3 linked regions of the Homo sapiens genome follow. The main gene of each other region encodes a partner of the protein of the gene in region 3 in a complex. Each region holds a gene or a part of one and is shown on either strand. Other genes may lie near its edges. A codon is read from its position in the direction of its gene.

Evidence for each region.
Region 1: CUL3 (region 3) and KLHL21 share a complex: the UniProt entries of both Homo sapiens proteins name them as parts of the BCR(KLHL21) E3 ubiquitin ligase complex.
Region 2: the proteins of CUL3 (region 3) and KCTD5 are in contact, whole or in part, in a cryo-EM structure (PDB 8U83), measured with the Homo sapiens proteins. Residues at the interface, in NP_003581.1 of Homo sapiens: Thr24, Met25, Asp26, Glu27, Lys28, Tyr29, Val30, Asn31, Ser32, Ile33, Trp34, Asp35, Leu36, Leu37, Asn39, Ala40, Glu43, Asn48, Ser50, Leu52, Ser53, Glu55, Glu56, Leu57, Arg59, Asn60, Ala61, Tyr62, Thr63, Met64; in NP_061865.1 of Homo sapiens: Trp45 (codon at 2,842), Phe55 (codon at 2,812), Leu56 (codon at 2,809), Thr58 (codon at 2,803), Thr61 (codon at 2,794), Arg64 (codon at 2,785), Asp65 (codon at 2,782), Lys67 (codon at 2,776), Ser68 (codon at 2,773), Pro96, Thr97, Tyr98, Phe99, Gly100, Pro101, Leu103, Asn104, Tyr105, Leu106, Arg107, His108, Gly109, Lys110, Leu111, Val112, Ile113, Asn114, Lys115, Leu117, Val122.

What each region holds. Positions count from the first base shown.
Region 1 is NC_000001.11:6,590,224-6,592,869, forward strand, and holds the end of KLHL21 (kelch-like protein 21), read right to left. Parts: 3' UTR 501-2,646; downstream 1-500. UniProt on the Homo sapiens protein: Substrate-specific adapter of a BCR (BTB-CUL3-RBX1) E3 ubiquitin-protein ligase complex required for efficient chromosome alignment and cytokinesis.
Region 2 is NC_000016.10:2,677,656-2,685,522, reverse strand, and holds the start of KCTD5 (BTB/POZ domain-containing protein KCTD5), read right to left. Parts: upstream 3,001-7,867; 5' UTR 2,975-3,000; coding exon 2,723-2,974; intron 1-2,722. UniProt on the Homo sapiens protein: Its interaction with CUL3 suggests that it may act as a substrate adapter in some E3 ligase complex. Does not affect the function of Kv channel Kv2.1/KCNB1, Kv1.2/KCNA2, Kv4.2/KCND2 and Kv3.4/KCNC4.
Region 3 is NC_000002.12:224,582,321-224,589,572, forward strand, and holds the start of CUL3 (cullin-3), read right to left. Parts: upstream 3,044-7,252; 5' UTR 2,690-3,043; coding exon 2,624-2,689; intron 1-2,623. UniProt on the Homo sapiens protein: Core component of multiple cullin-RING-based BCR (BTB-CUL3-RBX1) E3 ubiquitin-protein ligase complexes which mediate the ubiquitination and subsequent proteasomal degradation of target proteins.

The sequences.
Region 1 (2,646 bases), on a different chromosome or scaffold from region 3:
TCCACCTCCCCAGGTCCAAGGGCCATCTCATCGCAGATGGGAGTCTCATCACCACCTGTATGTACCGCAATCTCAAGAAGGGCTGTGGGAGCCGGGCCCGGGCAGAGGACCAACAGGCAAAGACCAGCTTTGGAGCAGGCAGGTTTCCTGGGCATCATCTGTTCCACAGCATTTACTTCTCAGGCCTCTCTCTTTAAATGGAGACAAGGTCTTCCCGTATTGCTCAGGGTGGTCTTGAACCCCTGGGCTCAAGTGATCCTCCCTCTTCAGCCTCCCAAAGCACTGGGATTGCAGGTGTGAGCCACCACACCCAGCCTCTGGGGCATGTCTTTTCCAACGCTTCATCACTTGCTACAATCTGAGATGAGAAAGGGCCTGGAAGGCTGTTTAAGACCCTCAGTGTGAACCCTGGGCTCCATGCTGCCTGTTCCCCTGACATCTGTCCTCAGCCCAAGAGTCCCAGAAGACAGTAGCAGGAGGACAAAGGCAATGACTCCAAATGGATAGGAAATACTTTTATTGCAAAAAGTACTGAAGGTACCCTAAAACCTTAAGCAGGATTCTGGACATGGAAGCCTACAGAATAGACAAAAATAAATATGTCAACCTGCCCGACCCTCTGGGGTGAACTGGATGTGGACACTGGAGGGAGGGCGTCCTTTATTACATACGCGTCTCTGAAGTCATATAAATATAGAATACCTTATAGTAGATCAGCATTAAATACCAGTCACTGTGTTTATATAACTTAATTTGTGCTGTAGACAAAGTTCTGTACATGTAACATGTGGCCATGCCCAGGCATCCCAGCATCTATCCTGAAGTCAGTGTAAAGACATCCTTAAGTGGTGGAGACATGACAGCCCAGAACCCACAGCAGAGGGAAACTGGGGAGAGGAGGGGGCCTGACCCTGGATCCCCCAGCTGGTGTCCACAGGCTAGAGGGACCCATTGCTGCAGAGGCTGGTGCCTGGTTTTCCCCATACTTGGTCTTCTAAACCCAAAGACAGGGTCCTGATGGTGGAGACCTGGGTAGGTCCGGAGGACAGACACAGGAGAGGGCACAATCCCAAGCGCAGCTCTCCTGCACTGGCTCGCACCACAGCCCTCATCTGAGTGGCCGACACAAGCCTGGAGTACGGCAGCTGCCAACCACAGCAAAGCCGCAAAAAAGACTGAGAAAACAGGAACCCAGAGTTCCACAGGGGCAAGGCCTCGCAGACCAGCCAAGCCCGAGATGCCCTGTGCTGGCAGTCATCACAGTCTGGACAGCATGTCCTTCCGTGGGTGCCCAGCTCAGTGCCTGGAACGGTCAGGGATTGAGGGCGTAGCCAACCTTGTATGGCCAAACCCAGCCCTTACGCCCCTGCTGACAAGGGAGACAAGCTGCCCCGCTGAACTCCAACAACCTCTGGGTGGGCTCAGCAGCCCCTAGGAAGTTAAGCGAGAGCTACAGGGCAGGGGGGCTCCCTGAGGGAGTTTGCACAGACCAGGAGGGGCCAAGGGGTAGCCCCAAGGGAGCAGAGGAAGGAGAAGGGCAGGAAAAGGTCCAGGGCACAGGGCAAGCAACAGTGCCAGAGGGTGCCTGGTCACAGGAAGCCCAGCTGCATGTTCCATGCTGCCCACAGGACTCCCAGCCAGGCCCCAGCAGGCCTGGACAGTGCTGGGCCCCCATCCTCGGCCTTCCCAGCACAGCAGGTGCTGGAAGATGACCATGACCCAAGCGAGAAGAGCCGCCATGAACTGTGGTCATACCAGCCAGGGCGTTCTAGGACAAGACTTCCTAACCCGACAGCAATGACATCCACAGTGTATGGACTGGGCTCTTGAGGAGCACGAGGGAGAGGCCAGGCAGCCCTGTCAGGGGTCCTGGGACATATTAAGGCAACCAGCCACGCCATCTGGCCAGCACAAGGGACTTAAGTGCAATCTGCTAAGTGACAGTGCTAAGACTGTCTTCCTGCTGAGAACATCTCTACGAGTTAGTTCACTAGAAAAGGCAATAAACATTTGCTTTAACCTTCTTTAACCAGGAAAATGCAGTCTAAATGCCCTCTTCTCTAAAAAGGAGGCAAGGACAAAAACTCAAGCCAAGGCTACTTTGGGTACTTTGAGGGGAAACTGACCATTTCCAAGAGAAACCCAGGGGCTGCCAAGCTGCGGCATTCACCCTCCTGCAGAAAGCTTTGGCAATGGGACTTCTTAGACTGGACAAATCAAACAAAGCTGACCCTGTAGAGCTCCTTCTTCTTCCCACTTCTTCTAAGGTCAAACTGCAAGCATTTTCAACTTTGGAACCAACCACCAAAGCCACCTCCTGCCCAGGACTTCCTTTAGAAGCAGTGGGACTCCTCACGCGCAGGCCCAGCAAGGGCTTGGGCACCCGCAGCTGTCTGCTTGGCTGGGTGTCAATGATCACCTCCCAGGGCCTCCCGGGAAGGAGAGGGTGAGAGGTGAGGACGCAAGAGCCAGTCAGGGGGTAGGAGCAGGGGGCTATGGCTGAGGAGGCCCAGCATCTGATAGGACCACATCCTCTTCACCCTCCAAGCCCACACCCCTGCTCATGTCCCACTGTTCTGGGTGCAGCCTCTGGAGGGCAGCCCTCTGAGGTGTTTTGATGTAAGCCCCTGGCAGGGGCCAGGAGCT
Region 2 (7,867 bases), on a different chromosome or scaffold from region 3:
TGAATTAGCACTACACTTTTGGCAAACTATCTGTCACTAAAACTAACCTTATTTACTCCAATTATTGTTTTCTCCTTTTCTTTTTTCTTTTTTTTTGAGACAGAGTCTCGATCTGTCGCCCATGCTGGAGTGCAGTGGCGCAACCTCAGCCCACTGTAACCTCTGCCTCTCGGTTCAAGTGGTTCTCCTGCCTCAGCCTCCCGAGTAGCTGGGAGTACAGGCACGCGCCACCATGCCCAGCTAATTTTTTTGTATTTTTAGTAGAGACGGGGTTTTGCCATGCTGGCCAGGCTGCTCTCAAACTCCTGACCTCAGGTGATTCACGCGCCTCGGCCTCCCAAAGTGCTGGGATTACAGGCGTGAGCCACCTTGCCCGGCCCCTACTCCAATTATTGTATGAGACAGAGACGACTGTATCTGCTACTTTACCTTCATGTTCTGAATTTGAGTTTACCATTTGGAAATCAAACCTGGTTAAATGGATGATGATGAAAAGAGCAAGTATAACACAGATATATTCAGAAAGATTAATTACCCCTCGCTCAAAGAATTGATTCCTACAGTAAAGCATTTTTTTGTTTGTTTGAGACAGAGTCTTCCTCTGTCATCCAAGCTAGAGTGCAGTGGCGTGATCTTGACTCACTGCAAGCTCCACCTCCCAGGTTCAAGCGATTCTTCTGCCTCAGCCTCCAGAGTAGCTGGGACTACAGGCACGCGCCACCACACCTGGCTTATTTTTTTTTTATTTTTTTTTTTTTGTGATGGAGTCTTGCTCTTTCACCCAGGCTGGACTGCAGTGGCGCTAACTAGGCTCACTGCAAGCTCCTCCTCCCAGGCTCACGCCATTCTCCTGCCTCAGACTGCCTAGTAGCTGGGACTACAGGTGCTCGCCACCGCGCCTGGCTCATTTTTTGTATTTTTAGTAGAGACAGAGTTTCATCATGTTAGCCAGGATGGTCTCGATCTCCTGACCTCGTGATCCGCCTGCCTCGGCCTCCCAAAGTGCTGGGATTACAGACGTGAGCCACCGCGCCCACCTTTTTGTATTTTTAGTAGAGACCGGGCATCACCATATTGGCCCGGTTGGTTTTGAACGAGATCCACCTGCCTGGGCCTCCCAAAGTGTTGGGATTACAGGCATGAGCCACCGCGCCTGGCCCATAATTTTTAACAAAGTCTTAAGGAACAGTAAAGCAAAGGGATCAACCACCTTAACTGTGCTAAAGTTCATCAACTGGGAATCAAGTGCTCCAGTGCTGAATAGACAACCATTGCCTCAAAGAACCCAATGGACAAGAGCAATTTAAACTCTAATTTCATATACAAAACAGGAATGCTTGAGTAGAAAGGCAAGGGAGTGACCACTAAGCCCTGTTATTTAAAAAGAAAAACCAAACAGTAAAACATACACCCACACTTATAAAAGGAAAATCACAGCTAACAAACGCCTATTTCTATCCTGGGGATGACTGTCATTTCCTGGGAGGTCAATTCTCTGAGTAGAGGGCTTGGTCAAATGAGCAATGGAAACAGTTGGAAGTTGTGGGGAGGCACAGGAGGGTTGGCATCTCAAACCCTCATTTCCACCCACAAGGCTGCCTTAGCAGTAACTCCAGATTCTCACTTCCTGATCACGGTCATGCCATGCTGAGAATGGTCTCAGTCAGGCTTCTCAAACTTGAAGAGGGATCCGAACCTTTCTGGGAAGCCTCCTGCATGGCAAATGTTGGCTGCCAAGGCACAAAGCCAAGCGCAGTCATGTAAGCTCAACTGAAAGACCCCGCAAAGTTAGTATAAGGCTTGTGAACTGCCTTGAATAAATATAGGTAACAACTTCTTCAAACAGGCTTTTTTGTGAGTTTCAATCCTGCACAACTCCCAAGACACGGTTCCTCGGCTCCACAACTCTTGATAAATAAAGGTAGCAAAAGGTTTCTATTACCATCTACCCAACAGCATGAGCATTTCGCTTGATGAAAGACAAGCTGCAAACTAACCTGGAAATTCCTGTCCTTTTGCGAAGACAGTGGGAAAACTAAGCCAATTAGAAAGCAGATTGAAAGATTCCTTACCTGACCCTTCCTGGACATCCCTAAAGCAACCCTTAATATGAGCAAAATCCCCTTCGAAAAATCATACTATATACTACGGACGCATCTTCTAAGAGGTGCTGAGTGGGTGCTGCGTGCTGTGGATGGAAAGGATGGAGCGCCAACTCTCTAAATGCAAGTCACCAGGGAAAAAAAGGGCCGCCCATATCAACCCCCACGTCAGCGTTAATTCAAACGTCCAGAATGTGAAACAACGCCAAGGGTTCTGTTTCCAGAGCCAGCAAGTACCCTGGGACAGAGAAGAGAAGGCGTTCACACACCCTGGGCAAAAGAACCTAGTGAGAAAAAGAAAGTAGAATCACAGCAAAGTCCGGGGTCTAGGAAGCCTCCTCCACCAAAGAGCAAAGAGGGCGAGGAAGAGACACCCCCAAGGTGAATCGACTCAGGATCCTCAAAGGCAGTGGACGCCAGGGCGCCATCCTCACCCTCCCCTCCCAGGGTAGGGGATCGGGGCAAGCTGGGGAGGAGCTGGCGACAAGGGAGCGCGGGGCTCGAAGCCCGAGGAGAGTCGCCCGCTCCCGCTGAAGTCTCCTCCGCACGAAGCAGGGCGTGTGCAGGAGCCGCAGGCCGGGAAGGCCAGGACCCTCCGGGCTGGCCCGTGAGGCCCTCACCTTGTCTGAGTCCAGGTCGGGATCGGCCTGGCATAAGCGGTACAGGAAGGATTTCGGGTCCCGGCACAGGGTCTGCCGAGTGGTGAGGAAGTAGGTGCCGCCGACGTTGAGTCGGACCCACTTGGACACGCTGCCAGGGCGCTGGGCCAGGGCGCCGAGCCCAGCGCTGCAGCGGCGGCACAGGCCGCCCCCCAGCCCCGCCCCGATGCCGCCCCGGGCCGGCGACAGGAGCTCGCAGTGATTCTCCGCCATGATCCCAGCAAGCCCCGCAACAGCTCCCTTCCACCGGAAGCGTCCGGCTTTTAATAGCGTCCTCTGAGTTCTGTCCCGCCCACAGGTCCGCCCTGGTAGAGCGCCCGCCCCGGCGTCACGCGGTAGGCGGAAGTTCCGGTCCCGAAAAGCAGGAGGCTGGGCCCGCTTCCGGCGGGAGCGGAGCACGGGGTGATCTGGGCACTAACGCTGATGGGGAGCAGCGGACATCAGCCTCGACCTCCCACGAGCGGTGCACGAGCGCCTGACCCAGACCTCGACCCTAGCCTTCACCCCCACCCTGACTCCAGTTCATGAACTGGTCAAAGGAAGAGCCATGCCAGCAAACGTCTACACTGTACATGCTTTTTATTACAAGACTACGGAGCATAGGAGGAAAATTCATCATCTGGTAACTACACCTAAAGCACAAATATTTGGGGGGAAAAAAAGAACAGATTCATTAAATTATATGATTAAATCATTGACCCAATAGAAAATTTATATAATAAGGGCGGGGCCTGGTGGCTCACGCCTGTAATCCCAGCACTTTGGGAGGCCGAGGCGGGAGGATCAGGCGGTCAGGAGATCGAGACCACGCTGGCCAACATGGTGAGGCCCGGTCTCCACTGAAAATACAAAAATTAGCCTGGCGCGGTGGTGGGCGCCGGTAATCCAAGCTACTCGGGAGGCTGCGGCAGGAGAATGGCGTGAACCCGGGAGGCAGAGGTTGCAGTGAGCTGAGATCTCGCCACTGCACTCCAGCCTGGTGATAGGGCGAGAGTCTGTCTCAAAAAAAAAAAAAGAAAGTTTTTGTAATAAAGCCAGAAAAAAGTTGTAAAATATATAGTAATTATTCACATTCAAGGCTGTATATCAATACATATAACAACGTGGCCCCGAACATGAATTCAATACAAATAATTCATATATTAGAATTTAGGCCGGGCGCGGTGGCTCATGTCTGTAATCCCAACACTTTGGGAGGCCAAGGTGGGTGGATCACGAGGTCAGGAGTTCAACATCAGCCTGGCCAAGATGGTGAATCTCCGTCTCTACCAAAAATACAAAAAATTAGCCAGATGTGGTTGTGGGCGCTCGTAATCCCAGCTACTCGGAGGCTGAGGCAGAGAATTGCTTAAACCCAGGAGGCGGAGGTTGCAGTTAGCCGAGATCAGGCCACTGCACTCTAGCCTGGGCGACAGAGTGAGACTCCGTCTCAAGAAAAAAAAAGAATTTAAATAACAGGCTGAACTAGAGGCCAACAATAGCCAGCAAATAACCTTCTATAAGATTAAAAACACAAAAGTGTATATCCTAATACCATTGTATTATTTGTTTTCATGAGTTCTTTTAATTTTTGCTTTGTCTGTACATCACAGTTACAGCTACAGACCAGGTAGAGAATATTACGCATGTTCTGACTGCCACCCACCTGAAAGACGTACTAGTCATTTATCCTATTTCATGTTGTGAAGGAACAGCTACAGCAGCTCTAAATACTGTAACAATTTAATTTTGCCAACATCCAACTTAACAGTCGTAATAGAGGCTTTTACCAGCACAATGACCCCTATTCGTAGTCATTCTGCCAGACGGTTAGGCTATGTGGGTTACACAGCTTAAAAAAGGTCTGCCTTTTGTAAAAAGTTCTCTGTACATAGTTTGGTGTTTCTTCATATGGAAGAAATGAGTTATGGGGAAAATTCAGGTACACACGTAGGCTCGTTCAGTTGCTCACCACAGCCATCTCAACAGATGAAAGTGCTCTTTGTTGGAAACAGCTTCCTCCTCACACCAGTTCTCCACAGGCAGCCTCATCTACAACCCTGCAATTTTGGGCCAGAAGTGGTGGCCCCTCAGAGGCTCTGAAGTGCCTCCAGCCCCGATTCAGGCACTTGCCACGTGTGCTGCGTAAGAAGGGACCCCACCCAGTGAGTCAACATAGGCTCATGTCAAGTTTGAAAATAACTGGGGAAAAGTGTATGACAACATCTTCCAGAACATAGTACCTTCACCGTATTCTCACAGCAGCTGCGATCTCTGAAGTCTCAGCAGTGAGCACCCCGGGTCTGTCAACCAGCCAGGCAAGGGGGGGCCCTCAGGCTTCAGAGGGCAAGAAACCAAATTCCGTGCAATTTGGCCATAATCTCTGGTAGAGTGAAGCAGCACTGAACGCAGTGCCTAGAAAAACCTCCTGCACGTTCCCCTGCACAATCAATGGACCCCAACTACAGTGGAGAAATGAAGAATCCAACCAAATTTGGGTGGTCTGGACTTGCTGCCAGCCAGGCAATCTGCAACACTGTGGGCAGGGAGATGGGGGGAGGCGGCCTGAAATCTACACCAGCTGGGACAACCACGCCCTACAATGAAAAAGCCAGCCTGGCTGCTGGGCTCTTGTGAACCACTAAGACCTGAAGGTGGGGGGGTGGAAGGGGGAGACAAATGCACTCTTGTAAAACCCAATCAGCTACGTGGTTTTTTTCAAGTAGAGGCTTTGCTCTGCTACTGACTCCAAATGGCCTAATGTACTTTCTGAGTCTATAAACTTAATTACAGATCACTCACTAAGCATGTGGCAAGGTCAGTTCAACACTTGTTATCTCTGCTGACTGCGCAGTTGCAAATTCAATACCATTGTGGACATGAAGTACAAGATTCTGAAAATATCGCCAAGCGCTTGAAAGCCACGGCAGCAGGGAGGGCAGAGAGCTGACATGCAGGCAGAGCCAGGTTCTTGCAACCAAAACAAGGAAATTGGCTCTTGGAAAAAATCGGCCACAAATGGATTGCAGTAGTGACATCCTCTTAGCATTTAAATAAAGAGCGGTCTTATTCAGACATTCTTTGGAACACACGGCTTATCAGAAACCGATTTGTTCAGAATCTGTAAGACACAACTAAGGTGGTTCTGCTACTGGAACTGAGCGTCTACACATCAGGTCGAGAGAGAGACAGAAATATCTTCAAAATGAACAAACTCTTTCACCTCAAAATACCACTTCCAGGCATCTAAGGGGAAAAAAAGTAAGAAATCAGAAGATTTTAAAGATATTCATCACAGCATTATTTAAATAGTGGAAAAATCAGAAACCGTCAAGTATTTTACAGTAGGGAAATGGTCAGATAAATTATAGTAAATGGACAATGACTAAATAGTACAATTGTTAAAAACATGTTTCTGAGAAACTCATGACATGGGAAAATGCTTAAAATATCAAGGGAGAAGACGATGCAAACGGTGTGTGTCGGATGTTCCTATTTTAGTTTAAAAAGTGAACAAATGGCAGGGCAGGATATACGGCAAAATGCTCACAGTGGTCTTCTCTGGCCGGTGAGCCTACAGCTGATCTTGTCAGAGACAAACGTTAGTTTTACTGAGTCACCCAGAGCCCTGTGCTGGTGCCTGAGGGTTTGTTCCATGGGACAGTCTCCACAATTCCTCTGGGGAAGGGCCACAAATCCCACAGTGTGTCCCAAGAGGGCTGGAGTAGGCGGAGTCCCCAGCAGCTGTGGCATGACCAGCCATCTCTCTCAAAACAATTGTTAACAAGCCTTCTGCAAGTTAAGGTTCCACATGGTAGCCGTGGTACAGAGGCATTTCTCTAGGGTGGAGAGGCTTGTGCTCTACACCAGGACTGCCCACCGCCCTGGCTGGGGCCACACAAAGAGGGGAGAAAGGAATCCCTCAGAAGCCAGCCCCCAACTGTGTCCCAGAGAAAGGCGGGGCACCTGGGACACCTAGGCCGGCAGCGACCACAGCCTCCCTCCACTTTGTGCCGAGAAGCCGCACAGTGTGGTCCCGACATTCCACCTGTCCTTGCCCATGTGTGGGGAGGCACATGGCCCCAAGTCTATTAAACAGCAAGTGAAATCTTCCTCATCTTGGATAAACCCACAACTGTAATTCCACGTAAGTGTGTCTATGTGCACACACAGTACCCCACGTTCTACCGTAGAATGTAAGGCGCCTGCGTGCCAGGTGATGGCTCTAAGGATGTGGTAGAGAAAACCGGAGTAGACATGAGCAAGCACAGGGTAAGGAAAGAAAACACACGGGCCTTTCAAAAGGGAAGAGCAAGGTGAGGAGAAAGGTGACCCACAGAAGGGCTTGGCTGTCAGCTCAGGCAATGGCATCATTTCGGCTGGCGGCTGCCAGCTCTGGCTCTGAGCCCCTAGTTCTGTGGCTTTGGAGGTTAAGATGGAGCTTGTCAGTGACGCCCAGGAGGTGGTGGTTCTATCCAGAGGAAGAACGCACGGAAGAGTCTCCCCAGGCAGCCCAGCCGAGTGCTCCAATTAAAGCCACGTCCCTGCTCCACTTGTTTCCCTATAACCAGACGCCCTGAGAGATACGTTCTGAGATGGGTAAAATAGCTGATGAGGAGGAGGAAGCCTGAACAGAAATTCCTGAAAGGGCTAAGAGAGACTCCCCAACACAGCCAAGCCTTTCCAAAAGCCAGGAGGAGGAGAGAGGACTCCGACTCCGGCCACAGGCCCAGGGCAACGTGCTGGGCCCCGGAGCGTCCTGCTCCCTGGGGCCCCAGGGTAGGTGCGGCCCAGCTCACCCCAGCTCACGGTCACAGGCTCACATGCAGCTCTCACACAGCAGCAGCCAAGGCCCAGGCAGGAACCACAGGCAGGGCCTGGGGAACATCTCTGCCCCCTCCCAGGCCCCGTCTGTACTCGCTTAGCTAAAAAGAGCCACTCTCGTCATTAGCAGTGTAAAAACGACACCTTCCCTCTCAGTTTGGATCTGGCCTGGCACACAGGGTCACTGCTGAGTCACCTGTGACTTGGGGGTAGGGACCAGGGAGGGTGGACACAGTTGAGTCAGAGGCAGGTCTGTGGGCAGCAATGTCTGCCTCTCCCCCACGGGAGCTGGAGAGCAGTGGC
Region 3 (7,252 bases):
GCAGTCTGTAGTTATGAACAAGACTGCCAATCTGGAAGACAGGAATTTTGAAGGTCTATAAGCACACGGTTAGTAAGATAAATCTATGAAACACCCTAACACTGAGATATACATCTATCTGTAACAAAGGGCCATAAACTGTAATAGTTCTTTCCAATGGGAATCACTTAGGAATGTTATTAATACTTATTAAACAGTAATGAAAAATTCTTTTAGAAATCAGCAGCTATTAACTACTGAATACCAAAACTAGTCACTTACTTCATGTAAGGTTTTCAGAAAAACCTGCAAAAGTTATAGACAGAATGGATCCAAATTAGCTCATAATCATAACGAAGCTAACAAAAAAAAATTCAGTTCCAGTACTATGTGGTAACGTATCACACAACGTTATTATACTGGTCAGCTAAAGGAATAATGAAATTCTCTCCCACCTCTTCTCCCCAACAATATTAGCTCCAAAAGGCAGGGATCTTGGTCTTTCTAGCTATACTGACAGACCCCCAGAACAGTGCCTGGCACATAATATTCAGTATTTGCTGAACAAATTAAATGATGGCAAAACAGGTAAGAGCAGGGAAACCTGAAGAGGTCAAAGAGTTTAATTACACATACATTAACGTACAACTGGTCAATCAGAAGGCCATTAACTTGAGTGAGTTGATGTCAAATTTGAGTTACTCCACATTTTAGCAAAAAATCTTATTTAGAACATGAGACTTCAAGAATTGAGTAGTGTAAGGCTGCACACACTGCTAGAAAATCTGTTGTATATAGGCCTGGCGCGGTGGCTCACTCCTGTAATCCCAGCACTTTGGGAGGCCGAGGTCGGTGATCACCTGAGGTCGGGAGTTCGAGACCAGCCTGACCAACATGGAGAAACCTCGTCTCTACTAAAAATACGAAATTAGCCCGGTGTGGTGGCGCATGCCTGTAATCCCAGCTACTCAGGAGGCTTTTAACCCAGGAGGCGGAGGTTGCGGTTAGCTGAGATCACGCCATTGTACTCCAGCCTGGGCAACAGGAGCGAAACTCTTGTCTCAAAAAAAAAGAAAATCTGTTGTATACAACTATTAACTTCATAAAATTCTAAGTAATTCTAAACTCTAAAGTGGTCAGAATTTAGTAGGAAAATTAATATCACTCACAAATGCATAACCCAGCTCTGCCCAATTATAAGGGAAAACATACTAGTAAGCTTCGTTAGTACTCGCTTGTCAACATTTCTCACGTTTACTTAGAAAAAAGTTTGAAACATTCAAAAAATCTTTAATTATTATCAAAACACTTATTCTCCTAAATTCCATCGTACCTATTTACACAAAGCAGAGGTTTTCGCACACTGACTTTAGTATTTATGTTCTTACAATTTCAGAATTCTGCATGAGGTGTATCCTTTTAAATTTTAGGAATTCAGAGAGGTCCTCATGTTCTCTGAAACTAAATCACTTGACTCAACTGGGGCAATCACATCAAGGTAAGTCTTTCCTCACTGCAACTGCGCTTCAGGAAAAGCATGCTTTAAAAAGTGACAACAAATCCCCCTCTTTCGCTGGTACATCATATGAAGTATTTATGAATCTAAGAAGGGAAGACCAAGATCTTTCTCTAATTTTACTTTTTAAAATCTTCTGTCCGATTGCTAGTTCGTCTGTCTTGACGTATGCCTTTTATTGTAGCGACATAGGCAAGTATGCCCAGTTCGTTAACAGTACATTTTAATTGCTTGCCACGGGGAAGCTGAACCAGATTTGACACCCAAAGTTATATCCTATATACTAAACATCGCAAGGGTACGACTCAACGTAATGCCAAAAAAGAAAAAGTTTCTGAGCAGAACACGTTTGCTGTCACTGAAAGCGATGAAACAAAGCTACTCCGCAAGGCGACTACACTCATTCTTTGGGCTCCCAAGGCTGAGAAATGGAGAACCAATTGGCCGGTTTGCTCTCTGTTGCTTCCCCCCCACCCGGCCTTCCTCCGAGTGGCGAGGCAATCCTGCACAAGAGTTTGTAAAGTGCTTAGGAAGCTTGTAGGATGAAAGACGCTATAAATACACCCAATGTTACTAGTTTATGACCACGGAGCATTCCGTGGAACCACTGTCACTGCGTCGGGGGCAGGTTGATGGCATAGACCTTCCTGGGGAGGGGGGCAGAGAGAGAGGGCAGCCCCTTCATCACCCTAAAAGCTAGGCTGGGTAAATTTTCAAAGTGTAGCGAAACCCCACGTGAAAAGTTCCACACACGCCCCACACAGGGAGGACTCCGCGGCTGCTAGCAGCGCCGGAGACTGGGCCTACAACCCCGGCAACGTGGGGAGGCGTGGGGCGGCCGAGGGGCCCCGGCCGCAGCCGACGCCCGCGGAGCGGCTGAAGGAGCAGCTCCCGGACGGGGGCGCGGCGCCAGGCCCGGGCTCCCGGCGCGGGGAACGGCCCGGGAGGGCGGCCGCGCCGGGGCCCCGCGCCGCCCGGTTGCCGGGAAGGCTCGCGCCCCGCGGCCGGCGGGCGTGGGGGAGGGGAGGCCGGGCCTGCGGCCTGTTGGGGGACTTCAGCCCGGGCCTCGCGTGCGGCTCTCGGCCCGGCCCCCGGCCCCGGGGTCCCGGACGCCGAGGAGAGACTCACCGGAAAGGCCCGGATCCGCATCTTGGTGTCCTTCCGGCTGCCCGTGCCTTTGCTCAGATTCGACATGGTGCTCGTCCCCTCCCCGGCGGCGGCTTCAGGTCGCGCTCCGCGACGCCGGTGTCACATTTAAGGCGGGCAGGCAGGCTAGGGGCGACGCTGGGGGCGGCGGCGGCGCGACCCCCGGGCAGGGCTGGGGAGCTGGCCGGCCCCTGGGCAGCCGCGGCGGCGGCGGGGGCGGCGGCGGCGGCGGCGGCGGCTCGGACTCTGGCGACTCCGATGCGGCTGGGGGGCTGCGCTGGCGCGGCGGCTCCGCGGGGTCCCCCTCACGTCCGGCTCGGCTCCCTTTATCGCGCTCCTCCGCGATGGCGGCGGCGGCGGCGACGGACAAACATCTCACTGCGCAGGCCGAACGTCGTCCTCCTCCTCCTCCTTCTCCTCCTCCGCCTGAGCGAGACGAGATCCGGCCCAGAGGGTGGAGGGGGGAGGAGGGAGGGAGGAGAGCCGGAGAGTGAGAGATGCCGGGGGAGGGAGGTGGGAGGACGGGAGGGGGAGCCCGGCGGCCGCCGCGGGGGACGCTCAGATCTCGCGAGAAGAGGGCGAGCGCGCTGCCCCCCTGGTGGGCGGGGCGAAGCCCGGGAGAGGGTGGGCGCCACCGGAGGGGAGGAGGGGAACAGGGAACTGAAGGAAGTGGGAGGGGCCGGCGGGGCGGGGAAGCGGAAAGGGGGCGTGGCTGAGGGCGGGAGGATTAAGCTGCCTTTTTGAAAGTGGAGCGCCAGGTCCCGGGTTCTGGGTGGAGGTGGTTGCTGATTGGTGGAGCTCGGAGCGGCGGTTGGGAGGGTCCTGGTCACATGGTGGGGAGTGGGAGGGGGGAAGTTCGGAGAGCGGGAGCGGGATGGTAGTGGGCTGGGCCCCACTGGGCTGGGACAGCAGGAGGATAGTCTTGAGGAGGAGCGTGGGGTGCTAGATGTGTAACTACGTCCCGAACTGGTTCCTGTGTTTTTCTAGGGCATGTGGACTAGGGATGGGTACTTGAGTAGAAGCCTGCAACTTGAAGAGTTTGTGCAGGAGTTAGCTGCAGTGTCGGAAATTAGTGTCCTGTATGCTCAACAAGGTATTCGGACTGGGTGTGCACACCACAGCTCTCAGGACTGGAAGGTGGAAATTTAATCTACGAAGTTCCCTTAAACTGCATAAGCTTCGGGACCTCTTGATTCACTGATATTTTCTGGTGGACCCAGGGCTTATTCATGTTAAAACCTGTTTTTCATTACCATCAGAATAAACTGACAGCTCCATTAATGAAATGCAGCATTTGGTAAATAATGTTAAGTGGAATGATAGAAACCTATCTTTAACCTACCGGATAAATCATTTCTACCATTACCAAGAGTATTGTAGATTTTTAAAGCCAAAATTACCGTCTGATTCAGTTGCTGTATATTTGAAAAGGTTTTGGCTTTTGGTTTTGGAGGAGAGGCGTTTGGTCGCTTTATAGTCAAAATGTCTAATTTGACTTATCGGTTTTGCTGTCCATTTGTTATGAATTGTACTTCCTCATTTACCTACTTGCCCAATTGCTGTTATGTTTGGGTTTCTGACTCTGCAAGGGAATACGTGAGTTCTTATTAAAGTTTGTGTTCTTCCTATTTTAAAGAAGCATATGTTTGGGGGATGGATATCTACATTTAGAAGCTGGAATTTTAATACTTTTAAATAGCAAACAATATAAAGTGAAATACACTTATTTGTTGACTGTAAGGTTGAATTTGCCCTAAATTAACTTAATCCTGATGACTAAGCTTATGAGTGTTGTGCTTAAAGCCCCTTCTTGCTTAAAACGCCCCACTGCAAATACCATATTTTCTTGTTTTTTTTTTTTTTTTGTGGGAGTTTTTTGGTATTGGCTAATTAAAGCAGGAGCTTAAGAAACAAGAATGTTGCTTAAGACAATATCTGTAAATACTGAAGCTAAAAATAGGTTATCAAGAACTGAGTTGATAAACTAAGATTGGGAGAGGCTCTGACTTCAATGTAAGATAATGTCAGCCTTGAATAGGAGTTTATAATCTCTATGCTAATTGAACCTCCATTTCCATAACATAATATAATAACAAACAATGTTTTTCTCTTGGTTGTACTCTCATATGGCCCAGTTTCTTTGTAATGTAAGAATATATGTTCAGAATAGGGATCTCTGAGGAACCAAAAAAAGAAATAAAAAAATATTTTAAAAAAGAATATGTGTTCTTGGAGCCATTGTTTGAATCTCAATTCTGCCACTTTACTAGCTGTGTTTTGCATCTTTTGGGGCATGGAGTTGACAATCCCCAGAATTTCTCATCTGTAAAAGGGAGACAATAACAATACTTCCTCCTTGGGCTACCGTGAAATTTAAATAGATGAATACGTTTTAAAGAGCCCTGAGAACTGGGCATGGAGCAGCAACTTACCACCTGTTGGCTGTTATTAACATGGGCATTAAAGCCAAGGTTATACTACTTCCTTTATTCAATAGGTAGGTTTCTAAACAACAACAACAAAAAACACTTGTATGCTTTTATAAAATGAGTCATATTTTGAAACTAAGCCAGTCTCCGACATTTGGATCTCTCAGACTAATAAAATATTTTCTGATAAGCTAGGGAGTCATTATAGATTTGGCAACTTTATATTGGCAAGGGTATTAAAAAGGAACAACTAGCATAGATTATTCCCATCATTTATTAAAAAGTATTTTAACCTCAGAAATGAGGGAAGATCCATTTTTGAATAAAGGACAGTTCCTTGAATTGAACAGCCTCGTAATGAACAATACGTCACACGAATTTTTCTTATTTCACTGTGAACCTAAGGAGACATCATGGGCCAGCATTTAGAAACCCACTACATTAAGGTATGTTTCTACTTAATTGTAAAGCATATAGTAAGTATAGTAACTGTAATGTATTTGCTTTGTGAACCCAGATTTTCGTATATTGGTGTTGCTTAACCAAAATTTAGCTGCGTCTAAAAGCATCACTGTGAACTGTGTCTTCCCTTAAGCTTTTAACCACCAAGGATCAGAAAAATGCTTCAAAATGATTTTGTCATTAAGAAGTCTGCTCATTTATTTGTTCAGTTATTCATTTATTCAATAATTATTATTGAATGGCTACTGTATGTCAGGAACTAGGGTGAATGAGACAGATGGGACCTGCCATCACATCCTTTTTCACATCTCACAGTTTGTAAACCACAGACCCATATTGGATTTGGCCCCAACTTTGTATATGCTTCAGTTCTGAAATCAGATATTTTCCTTCCTGTGGAAGCAACATCCTCAGAATGTCTATGAAATACTTTCTGAAGCAGCAGTAGATTATTTTTCTGTGCCCAGTCATATTCCCTGACTTGCAAATAGCAAATAAACTTTCAGGATGTTGCTTTTCTGCAAACTGCCACCTGATCTAGCAGAGAAAGCAGCACTGGAATAGGAACTCACTAGATCTTGCATGGCTGGCGATTGGTATTCCTACTCATGCTGACAGTGTCCTGACACAGGAAAACAGTGGCCTCATTTCCATTTATTCTTTCCATTTATGCATATGGAGCACATGCATTCAGAGAGATCAGGCAGTTGGGTGGGCCAGCCCCTTTTCTACATCCCAGTCTGTGAAAGAGCAATATAAGATGTGAGGAGCTGGTAAAAGGAAGTAATAGCCTCTTCTTGACCATCAGTTTCTAGGTACTCGGGATACCAAGTCACTTTAATCAATGTTTCAGATCTGCTGATTTTATTGTACAGATATTGGTTGTTAAAACAGCTCAAAGCCTACAATTTCAATTTGAAAGACCCGTTCAATGGTTTTGAGTAGACCAAGACTATGTTAAGAGAGAGAAAATGTTTTTAAGTTGGAAGGCAAAGATGTATAGATATTATCAGCTCTTGGAATGGAAGGGCTAGATCTTCTACTTTCTTGTCTCTACCAGGCAACTAATAAGTATTATAGGCCATTAGATATGGAGTTGTATATATTTAGGGTAGTAGCATGTGTATGTGCATTATAAGATGACATTGTCGGCAAATACCCCATTGAGAACATAACCACAGATGCTTAAATATGTGAAAACTGTAGGCCTTCTCCATGCAACTTTTCTACTGTGTCCTTAAAATTTTTCTTATATTATTGAGACAAGAAGCATATGAGACACATAAGCATATGAGACGTTACATCTTAAACTAAAAAATGTTAAATGTCTGATTATATCATAAAAATCCATCTCAGTATTTCATCATATGGTCATACAAAAGAAAATCATCTCCCTGGCAGCTCTGGAAATGTTCTGGTTGGCTTGGACAGTCTGTTTATTCCACATGTACCCAATAAATTAACATTTTGTAAATAAAAATATCTATACAACCAACTAACCCAATTGAACATAATATAGATTCTCAATTTAAAAATATAGGCATGGCTTCTATGTAATCTTATTTCAAAGAAAAAGAATTTCTTCTTATTAATACCATTGTAACAGTAAATGTATCAAGAAACCTCTAGGGGACAGTTATGAGTATGTATTGCTTTCATTCATGACAAGTAAAATATATGTTGAAGTTTGTAACTCATCAGCTCTGTCTTTGTGAAGTAA